4 separate regions of the Homo sapiens genome follow, and all the other regions are linked to region 1. The links come from fine-mapping of genetic effects on gene expression. A gene starts in region 1. Each other region holds a variant in brackets. All regions are shown on one strand. Distances are from middle to middle. Region 1 holds the start of IQSEC3 (IQ motif and Sec7 domain ArfGEF 3). Region 2 overlaps IQSEC3 (IQ motif and Sec7 domain ArfGEF 3). Region 3 overlaps IQSEC3 (IQ motif and Sec7 domain ArfGEF 3). Region 4 overlaps IQSEC3 (IQ motif and Sec7 domain ArfGEF 3).

Region 1 (5,202 bases):
CTCAGGTGATGGGTGCTCCAAAATCTCAGAAATCACCACAAAAGAACTTATCTATGTAACCAAACACCACATGTTCCCCAGAAACTATTAAAACAAAAATCATCATAGTAATTTTTAAAATAATAAAAAATTTAAAAAGAAAGACACGAAGTAGTGTATACTGTATGATTTTTATGTGAAATTCCACAACAGACAAAACTAACATATACTGGCAGACAGCAAGTCAGTGGTTAACTGGAGCTGAGGATGAGAGGAACTGACTAAAATAGGGCATGAACATTTGTCAAAATTCATTGAACTGTGCACATAAAATGGGAGCATATCATTGGATATAAATTATAAGTCAACAAAGTTGATTTTTTTAATGAAAAAAGTTTTTAAAATAAAAATTCTTGGTCCCCATTCCTAGTGATTCCAATACAGCAGGACTGGTATTATGGGAGGAGACCACCCCTCATATTGCCTTATGCCCATTTTCTGCCTCCAAAGAAAGAAAAACTAAAAACTAAAAGGCAGAAATGAAATCCACAAGCAGACAGCCCGGCGCCACACCCTGGGCCTGGTAGTTAAAGATCGACCCCTGACCTAATCGGTTATGTTATCTATAGATTACAGACATTGTATAGAAAAGCACTGTGAAAAATCCCTATCCTGTTGTGTTCCGATCTAATTACCGGTGCATGCAGCCCCCAGTCACGTACCCCCTGCTTGCTTAATCGACCACGACCCTCTCACGCGCACCCCCTTAGAGTTGTGAACCCTTAAAAAGGACAGAAATTGCTCACTCGGGGAGCTCAGCTCTTGAGACAGGAGTCTTGCCGATGCCCCCAGCCAAATAAACCCCTTCCTTCTTTAACTCGGTGTCTGAGGAATTTTGTCTGCGGCTTGTCCTGCTACAATATAGGGCTCAGAAATCTGCATTTTCAACAATCCGCATGGATAATTATGCTGCAGGCTGTTTCACTTATCGTATTCGTCTCTAATTTGCTGTCCAAGCACCCAATTCTTGGACAGCAAATCAACTAGGCAAACAAAGAAAATTCAGAAAAAAGAGTTTGAGTTTTTGTGTGCCCTTGTTTCATCCCCCAACCTCCATTCTTTAGCTGGAATGCTGGTCACTACCAAAGCATCCTCCTGTGTGCTGTTTCCCCTAACCGTGAGCTCAGCTGTGGATAAGCTTCCTTTATTCATTCTTTACCAAAGAAAGTTTGCTAGGAAGATAAATGGGAGAAAAGCAAAATAAAAACACATCAGGAATGCAGATAAACCAATATATGTGCAGAGCACAAGTTCCTTCTCATAAGGTCATTCAAGTCTGGCACCACGTGGTGGTGGGGGGTGGGCCAGCTCACTGGGCACATGGTACCCATAAATATGCCTACCCTGGGGGAATGGAAGGTTGACAGGGAGCCTGATGGACATGTGTGTGAAGAACGGAACAACACAATAACAAACATGCGAAGCGTACTCATAGCCCTTCCTCCTTCCCATCCCATTCCTATAAAAGAGGAAAGAACAACTCATTTCCTTCACGGGGCATGGTGGTATGCATCTGTAGTCCCACCTACTCAGGAAGCTGAGGCTAGAGGATTCCTTGATCCCAGGAGGTCAAGGATGGAGTAAGCTATGATCCTGCCACTGCACTCCAGCCTCGGTGACAGACAAGACTTTAAAAAAAAAAAAAAGTAAAGGAAAAGAAAAGGAAAGGGATATTTCCCTGCCAAATTAATTTAAACCAAGTGCTCTATTTCCATTCATTAGTTTTTTCCCTGCTGCCTGATGTATCTTTCTCATATCTGGCCCCCTGTTCTGTCTACCTGTTGAAATATTTCCCATTCTTCGTGGCCCAACTTGAGTAACACCTCTGTCAGAACTTATCAGATCAACACAGTCAAATGAATCCTCTCCCTCCCCTGAACTCTATGGCACTTGGCTTGAAGAGCTCTTACAGAAATCTTGAGTTGTGTTTTACTTATTCATGTGCATGGCATATCTACTCTATGAGATTGGAATCAACTTGATTATAGAAATGATAACTTATTATCTATGCTAGATGTGGCTTGCATAGATTCTGTACATTACTTTGCACCTAGTGAGTGGTGATTATTGTAGACATGAATGAATGATTCAATCGGTGCTGATTAATGTCTCTGAGCTTTTGCTCATGCTGTCTTCCCTTTATGGAAAACCCTTCCCACACCAAGGGTCACTTCCTGTAAGAAGCCTCCCTGGATCTCCAAGCTGCTGGCTCCTATAGCACTCTGGGCAAACCTCTGCCTGATTACTCACCACCACTATCATACGTCAAAGTTAATCATGACCAATTTCACCCACTTATTTATAAGCTTCAAAAAGCCTAACATTCCATTCTAGTCATGCTTCTCTTACCACCATCTAGCACAGTGTTTGGTAATAGTGTGCATTTTATAACTGTTTGTCAAATAGAATGATCTATTCAGAAGCTTCTGGAAGCGTTAGCCCTTGCCACAGAGGACCTCGTTTATTTAGTGTTTCTATCAGGAACTGCCACAGTTGTCTTGAGGTCTCACTCCCAGAGGAAACCCAGCATGAACAGCCTTCCCATCCCAAGTTTCGTCACGGATGAAGGAAGGAGCAGGACCAGACGCTCTTTAGGGTCCCTTAGAGCCCCAGGATTCTTGTGTTCCAGGGAATCCCCTGGCAGAATAGATTGCTGCGAGCAAAAGAGGCGAGTGTGGCCCCTCCTCAGCAGGTCTCTAGATGAACCCCAGCCTCTGGAAGGCCTGGACCTGGGAAAAAAGAATTCGCGTCCCTTCAGGGCCCCACGCCTTCCTGTCCTCCAGCACATTTCTCTTTCTTGGCCCCACCTTCCCTTTTTCTGCTTCCTCTCTGCTGGCCTCTCCCCTTCTCTTCCTTTCTTTTCTGTTTCTCTTCTCCTACAGGTCCCACCGCACCTTCCCAGTATCGCTGCTTCCCCTTCGCCTACTTCCCAGTCTGGCCAGTCAGATTCACCGTCCTTCTCGGGTCGCCTGCGTTATCTTGCTTTCCTCCCACGCCCCGACAGAGGCTCCCTCTCGCTGGCCTCCTCCCTCTCCTCTCTGCCCTGCAGGCAGCAGAGCCTTCGCTGACGCCAAGAGGCAGCGAGGTGGGGAGGCGAGGAGTTGGGGAGGTCTGGAGGTAGGGGGTGGGGTGGGGGTGGGGCCTTGCGCAGCCGCCCCGCCCCGCGATGCGTGTGTGAAGGTCGGGGTGGCAGTGACGCGGCGCCGGCGGGGGGAGGGAGGCTGGGCCGGTGGGAGAGGGAGGCGAGCCGACCGCTGGGCTGCTGGGCTCCCGCGCCCTCGCGCTCCCCGCCGCCAGCCCAGGCGCAGGCAGGGCGCAGGCGGCGGCGGGCGGCATGGAGAGCCTGCTGGAGAATCCGGTGCGCGCCGTGCTCTACCTCAAGGAGCTCACGGCCATCGTGCAGAACCAGCAGAGCCTCATCCACACCCAGCGAGAGCGTATCGACGAGCTGGAGCGGCGGCTGGACGAGCTGAGCGCTGAGAACCGCAGCCTGTGGGAGCACCAGCAGCTGCTGCAAGCCCAGCCTCCGCCCGGGCTCGTCCCCCCGTCATCGGCCCCGCTGCCGGCCGCTCCGGCCACCGCTCCTGCCGCCGCCGCCAGGGCCCAGGAACCTCTCCAGGACCAGGGACAGCGCTCAGCAGCCGCGCCGCATCCCGCGCCCGATCGGCCGCCGCGTCAGCACCACGGACAGCTCCTGGAGCAGCCCCAGCGGGGCCCTGGCAGCAGGGCTCACACACCCCAGTCGCCCCACAAGCATCTGGGGACACAAGGGGCCGTGACTGACAAGGAGAAGGAGCGTCCCCCGAGTTGCTGCGCTGCTGCCGGAGCCCTCCTTCAGCACAAATCCCCCTCCGCCCTCGGCAAGGGCGTCCTGAGCAGGAGACCTGAGTGAGCGGGGAGAGGAGATGGGCACTGTTGTGGTGGGAGCAAGGGAAGCAAGTGGGTGTGAGGGAGAGACGGGGACGTTGGGTGCGTAGGAGTCTAAAGGACCGGAGTGATGTGGCCTGAAGGCGCCAGAAGTGTGCAAAGGAGATTTTGGGTAAATGAGGGAACGATATCCCTGCTTGAGAAGGTTTTGGGGAATGCTGGAGCAAAAAGGAGTAACCAGACCATTAGTAGGAGCAAAGGAGGAAGGAGGTGGGTGTTAAGCGATTGGTGATACTGGGAACTGACAGCATTTAAACGGGGTTAGGCTGGGTTGAAGTTCGAGTGAAGATTAAACTGTAGAAAAGAGAACCATTGAAGGAATCTTTTTAAGTGAGAAAAAATTTGGAAGGAAGTTTGGGTAGTAAAAGTATTTGCATGGAGACTGAGATGTGAGAAAAGCTGAAGGCTTGGAAAGAGGCATGTGAAGAGCTTTAAAAAGGCTGGGGCCCAGGAAGAGTAGGACTGGGGTAGAGGGGAATCCAGGAGGCCGGGGACAAACCTGAAAAGCAGGAGTGATGTGGGAAACCAAGGGAGCTGGAGGCAGAGGAAGAGAAAATGTGGCTCTTTAGCTGGTGAAGTGGGAGCCACAGCTAGGAGTGGCTCATTTAGGGAAGCTTTCTCTTCTCTGACCTGATTGGACACCCTTCCTCTGAATTCCCGCAGAGCCGAAGAGGTGCAAGGGAACATCCCATCAAACCAATGGAGGACTCAGGCATGGCTTGAGGACTCAGTCTGGTTACAGCTTTTTCCTCCAACTCAAGGAGGGTTTTTCATACAGGGTGTTTGGCCGTTGTTGAAAGGGAGCAATGACATGGGGGACAGTTGGCAGATGGAGTTGGTATTCAGATGCCATGCCTGTTTAAATCTCCCTGTTAAGGCCAGCAACTGCAAACCCTTTTTTCCCGGTTATCTGGTGATCACTGAAATCTTGCCTTGGGTCCTGAGAGAAATGTTAACCTCTCAGTTCCTAGAACTTCAAGCTCTTTCTTCACTCAGGAGGTCCATGAACTAGGAATATGGGAAGAAGATATGAAAGTGTCTGGGATGTTCTCTCCTCTGTACTGGAAAGGCTGTGGCCATGTCTGCTTCTTTTCTCTGATTAGGCAAGTGATGGAGAACTAAACAAAGAACAGTTCAAGGGAAATTGTCCCTGGTCAGCACCTGACCTTGACAATGGTGATGCATAAGGGAATGGGGAGGGGGAAGTAGAGCTGAGAATCTCATCTTCATCCAGGT
Region 2 (5,146 bases), 76 kb after region 1:
CGCAAGCGGCTCTACCGCATCGGCCTCAACCTCTTCAACATGTAAGTCAGCCCCGGCCCCCAGCCCGGAGTCCTGGGCGTCCTGGGAGGGAGGGAAGGAGGAGGGCACCTTCCCTCCACCAAGCAGGGCGCCAGGTAACTTCCCACGTCATGCCAGGGTCCTCCAGGCAGGCGCATCTGTGCCGTGCCTGATCCCTGAGGTCATGTTTAGGAAGTACATATTTTATTTTAATCATCCTGAGTTTATTTTAAGAAAGATTAAAGGAAAAAAATAACACATCAGACACATGCTTTCACAACTGTTACAGCTTAAGATGAAGCTAGGGTTTGAAAAGTAAGAGAATGTAAAAGAAAAGACAGTATTAAGTAAATAACAGTCCAGGCCGTTTGAGGATTACGCAGCAATCATTCGGGTGGATATGAAGCCAGGGAAAACGCATTAGCTCCCAGGGTTGGTGAAATGCGAGGCTGGGTGGGGGAGGGAGGAGAGGCGCCTCGTAAAGAATGCCGGCTGAGAGCAGGAGAGGGGAGGGCTACGAGGAAGAGAGAGTGTGAAGCAGGCAGAGGCACAGGAGAAAGAGAACAGGGGAGAAATGACCGACCGCCATAGCTCAGAGACCCCAGCGAGACCGGGACTGGTCCTGCACCGAATGTATACAGCCAGTCCCAAGCAGAGGAAAGGAAGCACACCTGCCCCTCCCATGGAAATGTCAGGTCCAGGAGGCAGGCACTCGCCTCCATCCTCCACTCGCCCCTTCATAACCCTGCGCCAAGAGCACATCTCCCCGGCCCTAATGCGTGTTCATTCGTTCATTCGGCTGTTATTTATTGGGTGCCAGGCACTGTGACCACAGAGGTGAGAAGGACACATCCCCTGGCCTCAAGAGGCTCCTATTCTAGGGGAAGTAGCTACTGTTCATAGCTCACCTTACATAAAGCATCTGTAATCTTCCAGCAGTATCTACACAGAGGTATTACCATGCTGTTTTACAGAAAAGAAGCCGGCTCACACCAGTAAGGCGAAATGCACACGATGAAATAGCTAGTACTCGGCAGACCTAGGGAAAGGCGGATCTGACTCTGAACCACTCCCACTTCTGCAGTGTCTCTTCTGCATGCACATGAAAACTCATACAGACACTCATCTGCCCCAAGACAGGAATTCTTAAACTATCCATAGTGAAGAACCAGTTTTGTTCCCCCACACCCTTCTGAAAATACATTGTGGGCTAATACTTTTGTAAAATACAATAAAAATGAGGTGCTAGAAAGACAATCACATGCCTGGCTGTCCCGGAAAATGTCGAAATGCTATGGGAGGTTCTCAGTGCTTACCTTGTGTTTCTGTACTTATCTCCTCCCGGACCTGTGAGGAACAGCTCAGGGAGCAGCATGGCTTCAAAGCTTGCAAAGGGAAGAGGTGGTGTGGCGGAGGTCTCACCTCTGTTTCTCCCACCCTCTCTCCAGGGTTGGGGCGTCTGCGGTGGGGACCTGCATATTGACAACAGGATATGGGTAGGGGGAAGGGCAGGACTGGGGTAAGACCCAGGAGGCAGGGACAGAGAAGGGTACTTCTCCTCCATCTGCTCTGGAATTCACTTTGTTTGCAGATCTCCCCTGTCCTCCTTCTGGTCACACACCATCCTCTGCGTGAGGACATTCAGTGGGTTGAGGCTCTGGTGAGAGAAGCTTCAATGGGGAACTGGATTTCCAAGAACCTCTGGGTACTTCTATGGGTGGAAGACAGGGAGGAAAGAGTCATGGATGGCTTCAGCTCACTCTCTACTGCTTCTCCCCACCCCCACCTCCAGAAACCCCGACAAGGGCATCCAGTTCCTGATCTCACGCGGCTTCATCCCGGACACCCCCATCGGTGTGGCCCATTTCCTCCTCCAGCGAAAGGGCCTCAGCCGCCAGATGATTGGAGAGTTCCTGGGCAACAGCAAGAAGCAGTTCAACCGCGACGTGCTGGAGTGAGTACCCCACACTCCGGGCTTTCCCCACTCCTTCCCACACCCCACCTGCCCGGGCTCTCTCTGTGAGCTCCTTGGTGAAATCCTCGCTCCAGTTCTAACAGCTTCCAGCTTCCAGATTGTCCACAGGAACCAGAATCCCCTCTTTAGCCCATCACCCCAGTGGGCCGGAGCCCTGTCTCCCGTCAGAGTCATTGATTGAGTTCGCCCCAGGCCAGGCTTCGTTTGAGGCAGCAGGGATACAGAAATGGTCCAAAGAGACAAAAAGCCCTTTCTGCCTGTCACTCTCCAGGGCAAGAGAAACCAGGAAAAGGAAAGGGCTTGTGTCAGCACTGGGGTTCATCTCTGCCTGGTGAAGAGCCCCTCAGCCCCCCTCCCCCAGGACCCTCCCATTCTCCAAGGTTCATTTTCATATCGCTGGAGGCAAAAATGTGAGACAGAAAAAAGAAGGGGTTAAACTGAGGGTTTTAGAGCAAGAAAATACTACAATTCCATAAAGATAAATCTACCAACAAAATCATGACCAAAGAAAAAT[T/C]GTTTCTTTAAAACCAAAGAAAATGGTTTTAAAGTCCAGTAGCAGGGTGGGGACCCCCAGGGGGCTGCCTTTGCCCCCGCTCAGCCTTGATAGTGTGGACAGGCAAGAGTCTCTTCACACTCATGCCTTGTCCAGAATGGCAGGGCGGGGCTGGCGCTCCTCTGAGGCTGAGGGGCCTTGCAGCTACTCCTTCCCTGGGACATCGGCTTCAGCCCCTGCCATGCCCCCGTGCTCTTTCTGGCTTCCACTGGTCCCCGAGGTTGGCCTCCTTCTTGAAGGTCTCCATTCTTCAGGGACCCTCCCTCATTTCTCTCCCCTCTTTCTCCTTGGGGACAGTCAGCAGAAGTGTCTCCCCGGAGGCCCTGGGAAGAGCTCTCCCTTTCATCCTCGCTCCTGGAGCAGCAAGGGACTGCCAGAGAGGGTTTGGACGCTGGGGGAGTCATCCACCCAGTGGTCAGCTTCCCTGGAGTGGGAGCTTGGATATTTCACTTCTATTTATGGAGCTGTCTTGGTGCTGTGTGCCCATATTGAGAAGCCCCTGTCCTCTGGGCCTGCGTTTCCATGCCTGCAGAGTGGTGCTGGGTTGTGAGGGCTGGACCCATTGCCCTCTGAAATCCCTGTCACATTTCTAAATCCACTGACGCGGTGGTTTTCTGACTGAGTTCAATGAGTGAGGGCTGGGGTTCGCACAGGTACCTTGAAATCCCTGCACAGCCCTCAGCTGGGCAGAACTGAGTTCCTGTCCCTGACTCTTGGTGGCTTTTGACAATTTATCATCCCTCCTGGAGCTGCTGGTGGAGACGCTCTGTGGACCTCAAAGAGGAAAGAGAGACAATGCTAGGCAGCGCCTCCCTCTCACCTCCTTTCTCTTCTCCCTCCGGCTTCCCTTCCCTTCCCCAGCACTGCTGTGGGGGCCCATGGAGGTGCTACTGGGATCCAGGATACATCTAGGTTGCAGAAGGGGAGAGATGGCATTTCCTCACGCCCTTCCTTTTCTGTGTCCCCTAGTTGGCTCATCTCTCTGGCTTTCCTGCACTGTTGTCCCAGTCCATCCCTTCCCAAGCCAGGGTGAGGTGCTGGCCCCGTAGCCCCAGGCACCCCTGCTGTCTCTCTGCTCTGGGGGCAGGAGTGACTCTGCTTCACCCACAGGCCCTGACTGTTGTCTGTTTTCTTCTGTCTTTCCCAGTCTCCATGTGGCCTGCGCCCTAAATTCTAACCTGCAAGGCCCACATTGATCTGGAGTGCTGGGAACACAGCGTTTTCCTGCAGCCCAGGTGGTGCTGAGTCGCACAATGGAAACTAATTGCCCTCTTCCCTGGGAGGCTGCGTGTATGGGCTGTGGGCTGGAGGCTTGGAGCAGTGGCTGCAAGCCTGTGCTGAGGAGGGGAGCTGGGCTGGGGGCTGGGGGCTGGGCTAACCTTAGGTAGGGATCAGGCTTGGGATGGGTAGGGGCCAGACTCCCGCGTTGGTACACTCTTCCAGTGAGAAGAGGCAGCGTGGTGAGATAGGAGAAATAGCTGGACCCGGGCTCTGCTCCTCTGTGCTGTGTGGCTTTGGCAGGACACCTCTCTGGGCCTCGGTGTCCTCATCTGTAAAATGAGAGGGCTGGGCGATGTGATTGCAAAAGTTTCTCCAAGTCCTGAGAATCTACCACCTTTCCCATCTCTTAGTGCATTGGTAGCACTGCCCTAAACACTGGGGCATGATTTGTCATCCTGCCAGAGCAGCCCACAGGCCCCAGGGCCGTGCTGGGGTGCCAGAGTTCATGCAGGGCAGTGCTGGGGTGCCAGAGTTCATGCAGGGCAGTGCTGGGGTGCCAGCGTTCATGCAGGGCAGTGCTGGGGTGCCAGCGTTCATGCAGGGCAGTGCTGGGGTGCCAGGGTTCATGCAGGGCAGTGCTGGGGTGCCAGGGTTCATGGGGGAATGAGTTGGCCATTTGTTATTCATTCAACAAACATCGAGCACTTATTTATTGTGTGTTGAGAATGGGGCCACGCTGGGCACCCGTGTGTGTGTGTGTGTGTGTGTGTGTGTGTGTGTGTGTGTGAAGAGGCATGGCTCACAGTCTCAGGGAACGTACAGACCCAGGTGTGGATGGGGAGAGGTGAGAAGCAGGAGCATGGAAAGAGAGTGAGAAGAGCAAGGGGCCTCCAGCCGGAACCCTGGCTTGGGCAAGGTTGAGTGCAGAGCTAAGCCCTGATATGCCCTGGTGAAAGCCGCAATCCCTCATGCTTGATTGTGTAGCCCTGCAGGCCTGGCATGCTGACTCAGCGCCACAGAAAGGAGCCCCTCCCTGAAGTCCATAGGTCACTGACTGCCTTGCTTCTCTCCGAGGTGGAGAGGGCCCTGTCCTGCAAAGGGCAGGAGAAGATGGAGAAGCAGAAAGTGGCAGGCACTAGCAGGGGAGGGGGGCGCTGGAGTCTTTGCATTTCCCTTCCACTCTGACTGTGTCTTCCTTACTCCCGCCGGAGAAAACACACACACTAACCGAGTCGCCAGGTGCCATTTTGCCCAGGCCTGGAAGGCTTCACTGGGATTCTATACGGCTCCCCTGCCCCCGCCTGGTGACATTCAGCAAGCGGTATTCATTCTGTACAAAGCTGTTTGCCGAATAAAAGGATATAAATCACCCATCCCCT
Region 3 (5,202 bases), 97 kb after region 1:
CAGCAGAGGCATGCAGCCTGCCACCTTGAACTGGGGGCATCCATACACTCAGCCTTTCTCCTTGGTTTTTCTCACCCGCCGCCTGATTTCTTTCAGCCTCCTTGGCTGCTGCATGGCTCATTTGCCTGACTTCGAGAACCAAGATCAGACGTGGAAGAGACCAGAGCAGGCCGGGAGCTGCGTGTGGAAGGCGGGGTGTCCTTTCAGTAGCTGGGAACACTCCTTTGAGAGATGCTTGCCAAAGTTGTTTTATTTTTAATTTTTCCCTCTTATAAAAGAAGCGTATAGTCATTAAAGAAAGATTTGGAAATAGTAGAAAGAAGATATTTTAATCGCCTGTTTCTCCAAAAGAAACGTGTTTTCTTGTTGGCATATTTCCTGCCAGTGTTTTTTTGTTGCCCGAGTTTTATCATTACTATGAAGCAGGAGGTGGGACAGGGGTGTCCTCGCCTGCATTGCCAGGGGTCTGCCTGCTCCCCCACTGCTCCCAGTGAGGGAGGAATCTCTTCAAAGACTAAGCCCTCAATGCCATGCTCCCTACTGGAGGGGAGAGGAGAGCCCAGCAGGAGGAAGATCCAAAAGAGAACGAAACAGAAGCTCCTTATGATGCTGGAGTGGTGGGGTGGAGCTGGGGGGTGAGACGAACACAAGGAAGACGACAGAACTGCAGAGGCGCACAGGGTTAGCAGGAACATGGAGGCTGTATCTGCCATCAGGAAAGAGGCCTGGGAGGTGGGCGTGAAGACTCTGGTTGGGGAACATCAGGAGGTGAGGCAGGAGATGTGTGTTGGGGCCATATCATTAGTTTTGGTGCCTGGCTAAGGAACTTGTTCTTAATTGAATGGGTATGAGGCACCAGCCATTGAAGGCATGGCAAGAACCAAGGCCACCCCCCGGGAGCTCCAGGCTGGATGGGGGTCTCTTCTGTCTGGCTCCAGGGCTCTGACACCCTCCCTCCCAACCCCACCACCACCCCTGCCCACTCCACGTTGTTAGGTGTGGACGATGGCGCTGACATCCCCAGGGAGCTGGTGGTAGGCATCTATGAGAGGATACAGCAGAAGGAGCTCAAGTCCAATGAGGACCACGTCACGTACGTCACCAAGGTGGAGAAGTCCATTGTGGGCATGAAGACAGTGAGTGTCCACAAGCTACCTATCTCCCGTCTCCTTTCCTTTCTTTCTTCCTGGCATCTCTTCCCATTCTCCTTCTTACCTTTCCAAAACTCTTTTTTCATATTCATTCACATGATAGTTATGAAGTACCTACTGTGTGCCAGACACTGCATCTCTTTTTTTTTTTCTTGCCTGATTTCCTCATTGCCTCTTGCCACCCGATACTGCAGCAGGAGAGACGGAGATGAGATGTCAGGAAGGACTGCCCAGTGGTCTAGGGTGGAAGCATCTGGGTGGCCAGATGAGATTTAGTATCCCTTTCCTAGGACAGCATGACTACCAGGCATTCCTGGATGGTCCTGATGAGTGGAAGGCAGGAAATGGGCTCAATAGGCTCCAGGCTGTGGCATCACCATAGATTTGTCCTATTGGTAGTGACCTGTGTCCCAGGCAGCATGTTCCAAGCCTGCCATGATTTTTAAAGTGGGACTTCTCTGTAGGCTACTACACTTTATACTATAAAGGATGTCATGGGGGTTCCAGTTCCTCCTCCTCATATTCTTGCCTCAGGGGACGGTGTGGGAGAGTTTGGAGATCTCTTCTGAGGCCCTGCACTGGGCTCCCTCCTCCCAGTCTGTGCAGGGACAGGCTTTTCTGCTTTGAGAGCCTTTATTGCTGAGGTCTCAGCATCTGTCGGGTTGCAAGCGACTGGTTTGTCTTACACGCTGGAGTAGATGCCAGGTGTCTCTGTGATCCCTTCGCTCTCGCACACCTGCATCTCTGCAGTATAGAAAGGGTGGAGGTGTCATATCTGCAGGCCGCAGCCTGGGGCAGGGGATGCCCTCAAGGTTACGGAGGGAAGCAGGTTGACAGTGGCTGGACTGGAACAGCCTGCAAGCTCTTCTCAATTTCCTATTCCTGTCCCTCTATCCCCTCATTTACTGTGGCTCAGTGGGCCCCTTCTCTGGCCGTGCTCCCCAAGAAGCATGACAGGGATGAGCCCTGGGACAGGGGGTGA[A/G]CGTGCGAGGGAAAGAGCCTCAGACGAGGAGAGAGAAGGATGAGAGTCAAGTCCAGGCCCCAGGACAGAACCGGAGCCCCTCCCCTCCCTCTCCACAAAACCGAACCCCTCCCCTCTCCTCCCTCCACAGAACCGGAGCCCTCCCCTCCCCCTCCACAGAACCGGACCCCTCCCCTCCCCTCCCTCCACAGAACCGGACCCCTCCCCTCCCCTCCCTCCACAGAACCGGACCCCTCCCCTCCCCTCCCTCCACAGAACCGGACCCCTCCCCTCTCCTCCCTCCACAGAACCGGACCCCTCCCCTCTCCTCCCTCCACAGAACCGGGCCCCTCCCCTCTCCCGGGCTGTCTCCTCTTCTGGAAAATGGGCGCGTGGGTGGGGAGGCCTCCAGGCCTCTGGTCTCTCCCGCTGAGCGCCCTGCCCGCGTGCAGGTGCTGTCCGTGCCCCACCGCCGCCTGGTGTGCTGCAGCCGGCTCTTCGAGGTGACGGATGTGAACAAGCTGCAGAAGCAGGCAGCGCATCAGAGGGAGGTGTTCCTCTTCAATGACCTGCTGGTGGTGAGTGGCCTCCGCTCCGGGACTGGGCTGGGCTGGGGCTGCCTCTGCCGCCCTGGTCAGCCTGGGCAGGGTCCCTGAAGTGGGCAGGAAAGGACGCCCAGAGCTTTCAGACAGAATGCCTGTTCCGTGGGACGGATCTGCCTTCATGGTGCTTTCACACCGTGGGCGTGAGGGGGCTCAGGCAGACATGCTAATTCCTACCTCATAAGTCATGACACCGAGACGTCAGATGATCTGCTCGTGGTTGCACAAACTGTTAACGAACTAGTTCCCAGACCACTGGCCTCTCCACGTTACAGGAAGCCCAGGACAGGGAGTGCACAGGGCTGTGCCTCAGACCCCAGGGCCTGGGAGGAGCAGGGCCTAGGCGGAGCATGCTCTGTCCCTGGGCCTAGGCGAGGCTGGTGTGTGTGTGTGCGTGCACACACATACACACATCTGTACCCACAGATACTTTTTTTGCTCTTTGAAAAGAAGTATCCATTCAACAAATATTTGATCAGCGTTGACCATGTGCCAGGCATCATTGTAGGTCTGGAAAACTGGTGAGCAGGACTGGAGCAGGGCTTGTGTCTCCCTCGCACCGGCCCTCTCTATCCATGAGCCACGTTGGCACTGCCTCCAAAGTGATCACAAGCCTGAACCACCTCTCACCACCTCCACTACTACAGTCTTAGTGCACGCCTGGTACATTCAGTGAACCACATCAGCCTCCACACGGCTCTCCCCACCCCCCTGAGAGCAGCAGCGTGATCTCTCTGGAGTGCACATCAGGCCACGTGTCCCCTTTCCCTAACCTGCCTCCCCGCCCTCTCCTCAGCCCTGGGAGGCGCCTCCCTCCTGTGGGCCAGGCCTTTGTACTTGCTGCTCCTTCTTGCAAAGCTCCTCCAGACCTTGCACTCTCCTCTTGCCTTCCTGGCCTCCTCCTTTTCATTCAAGTCTCAAATCACTTTTGATTCCTTACCCTGTTTCATTTTCTTCAAAACACGTAGCACTTTGGTTTTGTTTTTTTGCTGTTATGCTTTATTGTTTGATCACCTGATGGACACTGTGACACTCCACATTCCATAAGCACCTTAAGGGCAGGGGCTCTGTCCTGAGTTCTCCTGTATCTCCAGGGCTCAGCTCACAGAAGCTGCTGAATAGAAATTTGTTTATTAAGCAACCAGATGACTTTACTAAAACGAGCTTTCATTTTAGTAGGGGAGGGAGATAGAAAATAATTAAGAAACAGACAAACAAGATAATATCAGATTGGGGGAAGGCACTATGAAGGCCACAAACCAGGTGATAGTACAGAGAGTGACTGGAGTTAAGGGCCAGGTTTGGGCTTGCTTTGGTTTGTTTTTTAGAGGAGGTGATCCAGGAAGGCATCTCTAAGGAGGTAGCATTTGAGACTTAAGTAATGAGAGTAATGCAGCCGTGCAAAAAGCTGCCGGGAGAGCTGTGGAGTGGGAACAGTGTATGCGAGGGGCCCACAGTGGAACTGAGCTTGCCCTTCTCAAGCTACAGCAGGGAGGACACTTGGGCAGAAGGCCAGAGTAAGGCAAGGACCACATCAGGTGGGTTTTACAGGCCAGCTCAGGCGCCGTGGCTTGGCTTCTAAGTACAGAGGGAATAACCACTGTAGGGTTTTGTGCAGTGAAGAAGCACATTTTGGGATAGTGTGTGCACATATATGTATATCTGTACCTGTATGTGCACATTCATCACTGCGTGGGTTTGTGTGATCGTGCATCCCCCGGGTGTTTGTGCATCCATGTGTCCGTGAGTGTCTGTTCATCAGGGCATGCCTGTTTCCCTCTCCTGAACAGATTCTCAAACTTTGCCCGAAGAAGAAGAGCTCCTCCACGTACACCTTTTGCAAGTCAGTTGGCCTGCTGGGCATGCAGTTCCAGCTCTTTGAGAACGAGTGTAAGTCTTTGACAGCCAGTGTAAGTCTTTGAGAAGGAATGAATGGATGAAATGGCTGGGGCGAGTTGAGGGAGAAGGGCTGGACAGCAGAGTGGGTGGAGGCATGAGACCCCGTGCCCTCCTCATGTCTGGCTGGCTCTGGCCCTCGGCTGCTGCTGCTCACAGCCCACTGGGGGCCTGGGGTCTGCTTTCCAGATTACTCTCATGGCATCACACTGGTGACCCCGCTCTCGGGCTCCGAGAAGAAGCAGGTGCTGCATTTCTGTGCCCTGGGCTCGGACGAGATGCAGAAGTTCGTGGAGGACCTGAAGGAGTCCATTGCTGAGGTGACGGAGCTGGAGCAGATCCGAATAGAGTGTAAGGACACGGGCTCCCGAGGCAGCTGGTGGGGGTTCCCATTCAGCAAGGGACAGGGGCAGCTTGAGACAGACATGCCTGACTCCAGGGAGCTGGCCCCACTTCGGACCCTCCCCGTGTCCAGGCCCCACCGCACCACACTCCCACAGCCCGGGTGGGAGCACCGGTTCCCATGTTTCTTCACAATTAAAGTGAGGCTTGCTAGAGTGCACACACGTGTGTACACAGATCAGCAGGCATG
Region 4 (5,202 bases), 69 kb after region 1:
ACAGGAGGCTGACAAACACAGTGGACAGGGCAAACGAAAACCCCAGGACAAGGCAAGTTTCCCAGGCTGGGTGCTTGTCAGGCCAATAAGGAAGTCAACAAGAGCTGGTTTGGGTGAGGTAGGGAAAACAGTGGCATAGCCTAGATGGACAGAGGATACACAGGCTGCTGGAAATGTGGGTCTAGGATCAAGGCTAGGTATGGAGGCTTGAGAGTCATTCCCATCATTGTCACTGTCACCATTAAGCAGCTACCACTTATGAAGCTCCTGCTCTCTGCTGGGTGCTCCATGAAATAATTTAATCCTCACAAGAAGATACAGGGTCAGCAGGATAAACCCCACTTAATAGATATGAAAACTGAGAGTCAAAGATGTTAAATTCATCCAAGTCCAATCAGCTGGGATCTGGGGCTGGCCATTCCCCTTACTTGCCACTTGCTCACTGGCCCATCAAAGTAGAAGTTAAGAGAGTGGACTGGGTCCTCAGAGGGAAGGCAGACAGGGCTGAGAAGGTATCCACCTGGGGAGCACGTTTACAGTGACCTGGAAGGCTCTGACTGACACAGCTCCCTTCTTAATTCATTGTTAATTATCACCCATCACGGGCTCCTCTGATGATGTCCAACACAGAAGCCGTGGATGATGTCCAGAGTGTACGGGGAAAATTAAAACGTGTGGAGACTGGCAGTGGCACCCATGTGACTCGTAATCAGCACACGTAGGGGTTTTGTGGCCAGAATACAGGATTAAGGGGTTGTAGGGAGACAGGACAACCAGGATAGACTGAGTCATGAGCACTGGGGAGAGTTGCAGAAAGGAGCCAGGAGGGAGGCTGAGGAGGCCCCTGGGGCTGAGTGACAAGCCCCAGATCTGCCTCTTCCTTGCTGGTTGGCCTTGGATGAGTTTAACATCTCTCGCCCTTGACTGAGATGGGAGGCAGCAGGACCCAGAGCACAGGGCTCAGGGCAGGGTTGGGTCAGCATCTGGCCTTTGCTCCTGGAGTGAGGCACAGGTTAGTGTTCTGGAGGTTCAGTGTAAAATAGGAAGAAAGGGAACAGGCTAGGGCAGGGTTGGGTCAGTATCTGGCATTTGCTCCTGGAGTGAGGCAGAGGTTAGTGTTCTGGAGGTTCAGTGTAAAATAGGAAGAAAGGGAACAGGCTAGGGCAGGGTTGGGTCAGCATCTGGCATTTGCTCCTGGAGTGAGGCAGAGGTTAGTGTTCTGGAGGTTCAGTGTGAAATAGGAAGAAAGGGAACAGGCTAGGGCAGGGTTGGGTCAGTATCTGGCATTTGCTCCTGGAGTGAGGCAGAGGTTATTGTTCTGGAGGTTCAGTGTAAAATAGGAAGAAAGGGAACAGGCTAGTGCCCCAGCGGCAGCGGAGTCAGCAGTTACGCTGTAGCCTGGGGAGATCTGTGGCCAGGTGCAAAGCTGCAGATAGGACGAAGGAAATGGGAGTAAAAAGAGCATGTGTAGGGTGAGCTGAACACACAAAGGAGGCAGGAGCGGGAGAGCGTCTGCTGAGTCAGATTAGGAAGGTTTTTGAGAGTCACAAATATAACTTTGGAATTAATTTGTCGAATACACACTCATTGAAGGCCCACTATGTGCTGGGCACTGTCCAAGCATTGGAGGAGATAGCAGTGGCCACGGCAGGTGAAATCTGCCCTCGTGGGACTTGATGTCTAGTAGAGGATGTGATGGGACAGATGCAAGAATTTAAAATCTGGTTTTCTTTCCTGCTTGGGTGAAGCATAGACATTGCCCAGTAGTACACGGAGTCTCCTAGGGTTATGTCAGCTGGTCTTCTGCCTTCAAGCAGGATGATACCATGCCAAGGGCATGGACCCCATCACCATTTTGGAAGCATCTCAAGCAATGGATTTCATACCTTCCCTGTGTTGCCAACAGCATCTCGTGCTGCAAAAGGATGCTCTTGGGCCTGGGGTTTTCCTAGAAGTATAAATAGGCCAGACGGGAAAGAAATGTGAAATCTGGCCGGGCGCAGTGGCCCACGCCTGTAATCCCAGCACTTTGGGAGGCCAAGGTGGGCGGATCACCGAGGTGCCAGGAGTTCAGGTCCAGCCTGGCCAACATAGCAAAACTCTGTCTCTACTAAAAAAAATACAAAAGTTAGCCAGGCACAGTGGCACATGCCTGTAATCCCAGCACTTTGGGAGGCCAAGGTGGGGTATAAATAGGCCAGACGGGAAAGAAATGTGAAATCTGGCCGGGCACGGTGGCTCACGCCTGTAATCCCAGCACTCTGGGAGGCCAAGGTGGGCGGATCACCAAGGCACCAGGAGTTCAAGTCCAGCCTGGCAAACATGGCAAAACCCTGTCTCTACTTAAAAAAATACAAAAATTAGCCAGGCACAGTGGCGCACACCTGTAATCCCAGCTACTC[A/G]GGAGGCTGAGGCAGGAGAATCGCTTGAACCCAGGAGGCGGAGGTTATGGTGAGCCGAGATCGTGCCACTGCACTCCAGCCTGGGTGACAGAGCGGGACTCCATCTCAAAGAAAAAAAAAAGAAATGTGAAATCTGTCAGTTTCTCATGGTGCTTGAATAGGGCTGACAGACAGAAATTGAGAGAAAAGGAGACATTTTAGTGATCAGTTCCCCTTCCTCTCTACATTTCCCCTTGGGGAAGGACTTTCCTGCCTGAGCCAAAGCCAAGTCCCTATTCCAGGCCTCAGGGAATGTGTCAAAGTTCAGCAGGGAGAATGAGCCAAGCTACATTATTTCCACAGGAGCAGGAACAGAATGCCTCAGAGGCAAGTATCTGTGTCTCTTATGGGTGCATGAGGTCATACCTAGTAAAGATCAAGTGGGGAAGTGTCCAGTTCGTACCGTGGGCAAAATTCTCAGATGGCCCCCAAGTCCCCTTCATGCTAGTGTACACATCCTATATAATCCCCTTCCCTTGAGTATGGGCAGGATGAGTGAATGTGATGGGACATCACTCCAATGATTAGGTTACCAATTGGTTGATTTTGAGTTAATAAAAAGAAACATCACCCAGGGTGGGTCTGAGCTAATCAGGTCAGCCCTATAAATGAAGCTGAAGCCCCAGACAGACACTGTGCCGTTAGCCTTGAAGGACCAAGCTATCAGGTTATGAAGCAGGCCACATGGTAGGGGACAGCAGGCAACCTCTAGTGACTGAGGGCCTAAGTCCTGTGATTACAAGGAATTGAATTGTGCCAACAAGAGCGAGCTCAAAGGAGGACCCCACACCTTAGATGATATTGCAGCCCTGACTGATATCTTGGTTTCAGCCTGGTGAGATCCCGAGCAGATAACCCAGATGAGCTGTGCCCAGACTAGATTCACAGAGCTGCATGAGAAATAAACAGGTGCTACTTTAAGTGGCTGGATTTGTGGTCATGTGTTACACAGCAATAGATGAGGAATACACTTGGTGTGGTTTAGAGCACCTTGAAGACCCCTCCAATAGGGGGATTGTGATAGCACTGGGAGCTTCCTCCTGCTCAGGGCCTTGTCCCTCATGAAATGCAAGTAACTTTGGGAGAAGCCATATAGGAAGGCTTAGTTGCCATTTACACATTAATCTGCGTGAGTTCCAACGATCTCCAAGGGTAGAGTTGGATGTTGGGGGAGACAGAATGATGTCCCCAGGTTTGGGAATGGGGAATGGGAATGGCCAGGCTGGAAGCACTGGAGGCAAGCACTAAGGATGTCTCATTTTATCTGGGATTGTCCTTGGGGATTGGGGTTGAATCCACAAGGTGTCCTGAGCTAAGAGGCTACCTCTGCTAGCGTGGAATGGGGCACCCATCACACCCTGCAGGGAGGGAGCAGAGGGCACGGCTGGGCTGTGGGAGGCAGGCATTCATTCTGGCTGCAGCCTTTGGGGGCTCCAGTGGAGCAGGAAGCAGGTTGAAGTGTTGTGCTGAGGGATGAAGTATGGCCTTTCTATCTGTACCCTCGCCATCCATGATCCCTGGAGAACAATCTGTACCCTCCCCACCCATGATCCCTGGAGAACACGGGACGTCCCTGTTCTTGCCTTGAGTCGTTCATCTCAGCGCACCCATCCCGATTCTTCGTTCATTCGGGAAGGACACCACGTGTAAGTGGCATGTCTGGTTGTGAATAGGAAACACTCGCACTTCCCAAACTTCTCTGAGGGCTGATCAGAGTCTAGGATGCCACCATTTAAGCCCATCACCTTCACACAGGCCTTGTCCCTTATTTAAAGGCAGAAGCCTCTGGGGGCATGGCTGTCATACCTCCCCAGTCCTTTCCTGAGAAGTTTCCATAGGGAGGAAAAGTGAGAGCGTAGCAACCTGAGAGGAGAAAACCCACGGACAGGAGGACAGAGCCGAGAGGAGGCACGCTGGCCCCCTGACAGAAGTTTTCCTGGGATCAGATCTGCCCAGGTGAGGTGCCATGCCCCCGAGCCCACCCCACCCAGCCCTGCCCTGGTTGGACAGCTCCCACCGTAAGAGCAGAGGTGACTCAAATTGGGGAACTCTTGGTAATGGTGGCCTGGAGGGACCCCCATTCTTGAGACACCCACTCAACTTTTTAGCAAATCCACGTTTACTGAGCAGCTAACTATGTACTGGGAACACACAGATGGTCCAACCCCAATCCCGACCCTTCTGATGTTCCCAGGGAAAGGAGCCACCCCAACACAGAGACATGGTTGCTGGGGAGGAGCAGGGAAGCACGAGGAGCTGTGAGGGTTTTTAGCATTTATGTTTTTCATTGTTTAGGGGAGGAGCGGGGAAGCACGAGGAGCTGTGAGGTTTTTTAGCATTTCTGTTTTTCATTGTTTATTGTTTTAAAGTGTGCACAAAAGTAGAAACGACAGTGTTATAAACTCCCCCGTAGCTATCATCCAGCTGTAACCATTTTATTAATATTTATTAACATTAATATTGTGTCATCTAACTCTTCCACATTTTTTGACAGAATATTTTAACACAACTTCAAGATATCATGCATTTTACCCATAAGTACTTCTGTATGCATCTCTGACATGAACTTAAAAAAAAAAAAAAAAAGAAGAAAAGAAAAGAAAAAAACAGAGACAAGGTCTCACTGTTTTGCCCAGGCTGGAGTGCTGTGGTACAATCATAGCTCACTGTAATCTCCAACTCCTTGGGCTCAAGCAGTCCTCCCACCTCAGCCTTCCCAGTAGCTGAGGACCACAGGCGTGCGCGCACCAGGACACCCAGT

The links.
Region 2: its variant is fine-mapped to the expression of IQSEC3 in whole blood (INTERVAL, PIP above 0.99).
Region 3: its variant is fine-mapped to the expression of IQSEC3 in testis (GTEx, PIP 0.95).
Region 4: its variant is fine-mapped to the expression of IQSEC3 in subcutaneous fat (TwinsUK, PIP 0.95).

The regions. Positions count from the first base shown.
Region 1 is chr12:63,510-68,711 of GRCh38, forward strand. It overlaps IQSEC3 (IQ motif and Sec7 domain ArfGEF 3), which reads left to right and starts at 3,258. Exons shown (of 14, transcript NM_001170738.2): 1 at 3,258-3,927. The coding sequence starts at 3,374.
Region 2 is chr12:139,314-144,459 of GRCh38, forward strand. It overlaps IQSEC3 (IQ motif and Sec7 domain ArfGEF 3), which reads left to right. Exons shown (of 14, transcript NM_001170738.2): 4 at 1-41; 5 at 1,811-1,972. IQSEC3-AS3 (IQSEC3 antisense RNA 3) reads right to left here. Exons shown (of 10, transcript NR_033859.2): 2 at 4,996-5,146; 3 at 3,926-4,096; 4 at 2,021-3,320; 5 at 1,599-1,931; 6 at 1,335-1,490; 7 at 927-1,057. Among named protein-coding and RNA genes, the nearest start is that of IQSEC3-AS3, 7.3 kb to the right of the region's middle. The variant T/C (reference allele first, on the strand shown) is at 2,508.
Region 3 is chr12:160,930-166,131 of GRCh38, forward strand. IQSEC3 (IQ motif and Sec7 domain ArfGEF 3) reads left to right here. Exons shown (of 14, transcript NM_001170738.2): 8 at 997-1,136; 9 at 2,565-2,690; 10 at 4,505-4,604; 11 at 4,800-4,961. IQSEC3-AS1 (IQSEC3 antisense RNA 1) reads right to left here. Exons shown (of 3, transcript NR_183431.1): 2 at 4,383-5,202; 3 at 3,691-3,828. Among named protein-coding and RNA genes, the nearest start is that of IQSEC3-AS3, 14 kb to the left of the region's middle. The variant A/G (reference allele first, on the strand shown) is at 2,134.
Region 4 is chr12:132,621-137,822 of GRCh38, forward strand. The region is part of intron 3 of IQSEC3 (IQ motif and Sec7 domain ArfGEF 3); the gene reads left to right. IQSEC3-AS3 (IQSEC3 antisense RNA 3) reads right to left here. Exons shown (of 10, transcript NR_033859.2): 10 at 4,791-5,007. Among named protein-coding and RNA genes, the nearest start is that of IQSEC3-AS3, 14 kb to the right of the region's middle. The variant A/G (reference allele first, on the strand shown) is at 2,403.